Linked DNA regions of Homo sapiens: region 1 is linked to region 2. The links come from fine-mapping of genetic effects on gene expression. A gene starts in region 2. The other region holds a variant in brackets. All regions are shown on one strand. Distances are between the middles of the regions. Region 1 overlaps GATA5 (GATA binding protein 5). Region 2 holds the start of HAR1B (highly accelerated region 1B).

The links. PIP is the estimated chance that this variant, and not a neighbour inherited with it, causes the effect.
Region 1: its variant is fine-mapped to the expression of HAR1B in anterior cingulate cortex (GTEx, PIP 0.97).

Annotation. Positions count from the first base shown.
Region 1 is chr20:62,473,176-62,475,849 of GRCh38, reverse strand. It overlaps GATA5 (GATA binding protein 5), which reads left to right. Exons shown (of 7, transcript NM_080473.5): 2 at 308-851; 3 at 2,272-2,447. The coding sequence starts at 329. Among named protein-coding and RNA genes, the nearest start is that of GATA5, 1.5 kb to the left of the region's middle. RefSeq lists an enhancer at 1,587-2,247. The variant C/T (reference allele first, on the strand shown) is at 1,225.
Region 2 is chr20:63,100,926-63,103,925 of GRCh38, reverse strand. It overlaps HAR1B (highly accelerated region 1B), which reads left to right and starts at 1,607. Exons shown (of 3, transcript NR_152601.1): 1 at 1,607-1,811. It overlaps HAR1A (highly accelerated region 1A), which reads right to left and starts at 2,634. Exons shown (of 2, transcript NR_003244.2): 1 at 672-2,634; 2 at 1-371. RefSeq lists a silencer at 1,169-1,558.

The DNA.
Region 1 (2,674 bases), 630 kb after region 2:
GCCCTGCGTCCTGCGGCCGCGCCAGGCCCGTCCTTCCCAGGCCCCCACCGAGCTCACCCCGGGGACCTCCGAAGCCCGGTCGGGGAGGAGGTGGGCTCGGCGTTGTGACTGCCCCGGGGATGACGCGCTGGCCTCTCCCATCCCCGCGGTTCCTCTCCCTCGGGTTCGGGGACCCGCCCCGCGAACGTCCCGGGCTGGGGACTGGGAAGCGCTGCCCGAAGCGGCGGCACCTGCCCGGCATAAGCTCGGGCGCTGGCGGAGGGCGCAGAGCTCCCGTGACCTCCACACCTGTCCCTCTTCCCTGCAGGTCAAGACCACGCCTGGGAGGATGTACCAGAGCCTGGCGCTGGCCGCGAGCCCCCGCCAGGCCGCCTACGCCGACTCGGGCTCCTTCCTGCACGCTCCGGGCGCCGGCTCTCCGATGTTTGTGCCGCCGGCGCGCGTCCCCTCGATGCTGTCCTACCTGTCCGGGTGTGAGCCGAGCCCGCAGCCCCCCGAGCTCGCTGCGCGCCCCGGCTGGGCGCAGACAGCCACCGCGGATTCGTCGGCCTTCGGCCCGGGCAGTCCGCACCCCCCAGCCGCGCACCCGCCCGGGGCCACCGCCTTCCCTTTCGCGCACAGCCCCTCGGGGCCCGGCAGCGGCGGCAGCGCGGGGGGCCGAGACGGCAGTGCCTACCAGGGCGCGCTGTTGCCTCGAGAACAGTTCGCGGCCCCGCTTGGGCGGCCGGTGGGGACCTCGTACTCCGCCACCTACCCGGCCTACGTGAGCCCCGACGTGGCCCAGTCCTGGACTGCCGGGCCCTTCGATGGCAGCGTCCTGCACGGCCTCCCAGGCCGCAGGCCCACCTTCGGTGAGTGCGGGGGCTCCACAGTCTCGGGGCCCAGGAGCGGCCGAATCCGGGTGCAAACCCGCACCCTGCGAAACGCTCCCCTCATCCTCCCCCACGGTCCGAGCCTCCCTGCCAGGAGCGACACCAGCAGCCCCGGGGCGAGACGAGTAAACCTGGGTAACACCCCGCACGGGAAACACCCATCCAGAATTCTGTTTTAACCTGTTAATGAGAAGGAACATCTATTTCCAAACAGCATTCCGGATTGTGCCAATGTGGAGCCTCAAAAGTCTTAATCGTTTTTGTTTTTGTTTTTGAAAAGTTTTGGAAACGATTTTTATAAAGCCCAAAACATCGGTTTATTTAAGTGGCCACATTCGTCTCGGTTCTAGGA[C/T]GTTTACTGATTTTAATTTGAGACCTGGTTTCAGTCGCTTCCCGAGTATCAGTTTGGAGAATCGGATTCTCGGCCTGTGAGGGGAGCGGCTCTTCCCGGTTGCAGCGTAGTCACTTTCTGGCGAAGGCGGCTCCTCTGAGCTCCGCAGGGGCCCATCCCGTCCCTCCGGGACCTTGGAGGCCTCGACACCCAGCTCCGGAGCTGCCTTTGGGACCCCGCCGGCCCTTTGGCGCAGGAAGCGGGCGCAGCGGCATCCGCAGGACCCCTGGCCCCCGCCTCCCTGGACAGCCCGGCTGCTGGCGCCCACCCCCGGCGGGGCGATGATTGATCCCTGCCCCACCCCCACTCGGCGCCCGGGCCTCCCTCGCGCCGGCGCCGGGCCGGGCCTGGAGGGGACCAGGAAGACCTCCACCCCCAGCCGCACAGTGTGCGAAGCCCGGCCCCAGGGGGCTGTGAGGCGGGGCTGGCCTTCTAAAGGAAGGACACTGGTTGCGACCACAGCCAAGCTGACAGAAGGCACCTCCTCCACCCTCCCAACCCCCCACCCCTGTCATGGACCCGCTTTGCAGAACAGGAGGACAGCGGGGTTAGCGTTCCCAGGAGAGCCCAGGGGCGCCCAAGAGTGTCTGCCAGATAAAGCCCCTTCATCCCTCCCCTGCCAGTGTAGACACCACTTCATCCACCTCCCCCGCCAGTGTAGACACCCTGCTTTCCCAGCAGGTCAAACAGGCAGAGGCCAGTGCTGGCCCCCGGTCCCGGAGCCGGGAGTCCCAGGTGTCTGTCTTCAGGTTCTGTTTATTAACACCCCATCCTCGAAAAACCAACCCTAGCGAATTTTATCGTATGTGAATTAAAAATTTAAAAATAAGATGAAGTAAGCAAATAAATTTTAAAATAAAATACATCTAAGGCACAAGATTTGTGCCTTAAGTTTATTCGTCTGACGAAAGCCGCCAGGCTCCTGGGGAGGGGAGGGTGCCGGCCCATGAGCTGGGGAGGATCCTGGGGAGGGGAGGGCCCGGGCCCACCAGCTGCCTGTCCCCTCAGTGTCCGACTTCTTGGAGGAGTTCCCGGGTGAGGGTCGTGAGTGTGTCAACTGCGGGGCCCTGTCCACACCGCTGTGGCGCCGAGACGGCACCGGCCACTACCTGTGCAATGCCTGCGGCCTCTACCACAAGATGAATGGCGTCAACCGGCCGCTCGTTCGGCCTCAGAAGCGCCTGGTGAGTTCGGGCTGGGCAGAGGGGCGCCTGGGCGCAGTGCTCCCCCGAGGGGACCTCTTGCAATCCACCCAGGTGACACCAGAGCCCCTGGGGTAGGGGGTAGGGAGTGTCCCAAAAACAGCCTGGGTGCCCGCCCCGGTGGGTCAGGTCAGGCCGGCTCAGGTCTTCTTTGAGAGCGCTCAGGGCAGGGCAGGGGATCCCAGTGGGGATGCCAGGGGCCACCAGCT
Region 2 (3,000 bases):
AAACACCCATGGGGCCCCTGGTCCCGCCCTGAAGCCAATTCCAGCTGCCCCCAGGAGTGTGAGGGGCCTGGGGGTGTCTTCCTGGGAGCTGCCAGGTGTGAGATTGACCCAAGAAATGGGACCACAGGAACCCAAAAAGCTACAGCTGGGTGGCCAGGTCCACCATCCACGCCCTCAGGTCCACCAGCCACGCCCTCAGGTCCAGTCTTCTAAAGGTCAAGGGTCTCTGACCAGGTGGAGCAGAGCACGTGACTGGGCAGCTCTTCTCTGCCTGGAACGCCCATCTTCTGTCTTGAGGCAGAAAAATCTATTTTAGAGGGTTTCCAGGCCTGGCTCCTCAGAGGTGCGGGAAGATGTTCAGAGCTGAGACTCTGGAGGGAACGGAGGGGCAGGGACATCCCAGCCTCATCCACAAAGGCCCCCTGCACGACGATCCTCCCTCCCGCTCTGCTCCTCTGCTCCCCGCTCCTTCCTCCTTCCTCCCCGCTCCCTCCTCCCCACTCCTCCTTCCTCCCCGCTCCCTCCTCCCCACTCCTTCCTCCCCGCTCCCTCCTCCCCGCTCCCTCCTCCCCACTCCTCCTTCCTCCCCGCTCCCTCCTCCCCACTCCTTCCTCCCCGCTCCCTCCTCCCCACTTCCTCCTCCCCAATGCTAGAAACAGGCCCCTCCGCACCTTGCCCTGGCTGCAGAACGCAGCTTAATTACATGGTCTGCGGGTTGGGGCCCTGAGCGAGGCTGGGGCTGGTTCTTGGCCAAGACGCCTCCCCAGCCGGCTCAGCCTCCATCAGAAGCGGCAGCTCTGATTGGCCACCGTGCACCGCGTGGAGCGCCGTTCCTCGCAGCGAGTTCATGAGGCATTTCACTGGGGGCCCGGGCACCCGCCTTGACATCAATTACGCCAAAATTAAGTGGCAGCGTCCACTGCGTGGGGCCCGAGCTGTGGGGCCTCTTCCGTCTCCCGGAGCCCAACCGCGGGCCCCTGCGCCCCGGCAGGCAGGATCTCACCGCAGGGGCGGCGGTGGGGAGGGGAGGTCAGGCCCGCTTCCCCGGAGCGGCCCGCAGCTCCCGGCCCAGGTTCCCAGGCTGCAGCGTGAGGGGCGCGCAGCGGGGCCGGGTGGGCTGGGGCCGGCGCGGAAAGCCCTCGCCCTGAAAGCCCAGGCCGGCCCCAGCCCACGGCGCTCGCGCCCACCGTGCCGCGCGGGCCACCGCCCACCCGGGGGCTGGTTAGAAACGCGGACTCTGCCCCTTCGCGCCGCCTCCGGGGCTCACGGGCGCCCGAGTCGGAAGCCCCGCCCTGGGGAGGCCGGTCTCCTCGCGAGGGCCTGGGCCGCTCTGGGCGCTCGGCCCGCGTGTCGGGGGCTCCCCGGGGCGCCCTGGGCTCCTGCTGCTGTTTCTTCCTGGCCGGCCTTGAGGTGCGGAGCCCCCGGGCTCTGCTGAGGGCCTCCCGGCCCCGTGGCCTCGGTGACCTCGGTTCAGGCGTCCGTGACCGTCTCGCCTGGTGGCTCCGCGCCGCTGACCTCGGCACGCCGCGGGCCTTCCTCCTCTTGCGGACCGGAGGGAGAGCCGGGCGCAGAGACCGAGGCACAGTCGCGCGGCGCGGCGTTCCGCGTGACCCTGCGGTTAAAACCCGCGCGCTGCAGCATCGCGGAAAACGGGATTCGCCTCATTTGAAACTTGAGGAAAATCTCTAAACACTTTCATTTTGATAGAAACCATTTCCGCCGCTGACGTGCGTCTACGCCCATCATTTCAGCTGACACGTTGCTGTAACGTCTCCTCCGTTTCATGCTCTTTCGAACCCTGTCAGCTGCGGGTAAGACTGTAGAAAAGAGAGGGGAGAACAGGGCCCAGCCGGTGGCGCCGGCGTCTTAGCAGCCGATTGCGCAGCTCCCGGGCGCGGCGGAGAGTCCGGGCTCGTGGGGAGCGCCGGCTCCAGAGCCCGCGGAGCAGCAGCCCAGACTCCCAAGACGGAGGGCACCGGGCGGGCGCACACACTAACCCACGCAGGGGACACTCAGGCTCTAACTCACGTGCACACACGCTCACATGTACACACGCACACACGCACCCGGACGTACACACACAGCTGTCGCCTACCACACACATTCATACTCCATTCACACTGCAGGATGTGCAAATGTGTGTGACAGAGAGAGGAGGGAGAGAGAGGGGGAGAGAGAGGGAGAGAGAGGGAGAGAGAGGGAGGGGGAGAGAGGGAGAGGGAGAGGGGGAGAGGGAGGGAGAGGGAGGGGGGAGAGAGGGAGAGGGAGAGAGAGAGGGAGAGGGAGAGAGAGGGAGAGAGAGGGAGAGAGAGGGAGAGAGGGAGAGAGAGAGGGAGAGAGAGAGAGGGAGAGAGAGAGAGAGAGAGAGAATGTGCCTCTCAGGAATGGTCAAATATCCTCCTGACACACCTGGTTGGCCCAATGCAGGGACAGAGAGGGGGATGACCTGATGGCTTTGCCTTCCACCCACCCAGCGCCTGCCCATCAGTACAGCAGGGCTGCCCTGCCCGCCTGCGACCCACCTTTCCCGACAGCCTGTGTGCTTTCTCCCCGAGTCTCCAGGACAGCCCACTAGTGGCATGGCGGTTCCCTGGGTGGGAGGAGCGGAACCCTTCAGGCCCCCTCAACACTCCCCCAAAACCTCCCTGGGGGCCCCCACTGGCTTCAGCGCCCTGCAAAAGGCTGACTAGGATCCATGTGCACACTCCGTGTGCCACTGCTGCCAGGGCCCCCAGCCCCAGGCTGCCTCCCTCCCTCTCTGTCAGGAGCTGGGTTGGCCTGGGAGGGTTGTGGTGCCGCTGACTGCTCCCGGGCAGGGGCCATCTCATCTCTGTTCTCACCGTGCAGGCAGCAGCAGGAAGGGAGGCAAAAGGAGGGAGTGGGGAGAAGGAGGGGGCGCTGACCACATGAAGAGACGCTTCTTCCCTGGTGCTCCATCTCCCTCCCCGTCCCCCAGTGGACACCCTGGACCAAGCTGAGCCCACAAGGGTGCCCACCCTG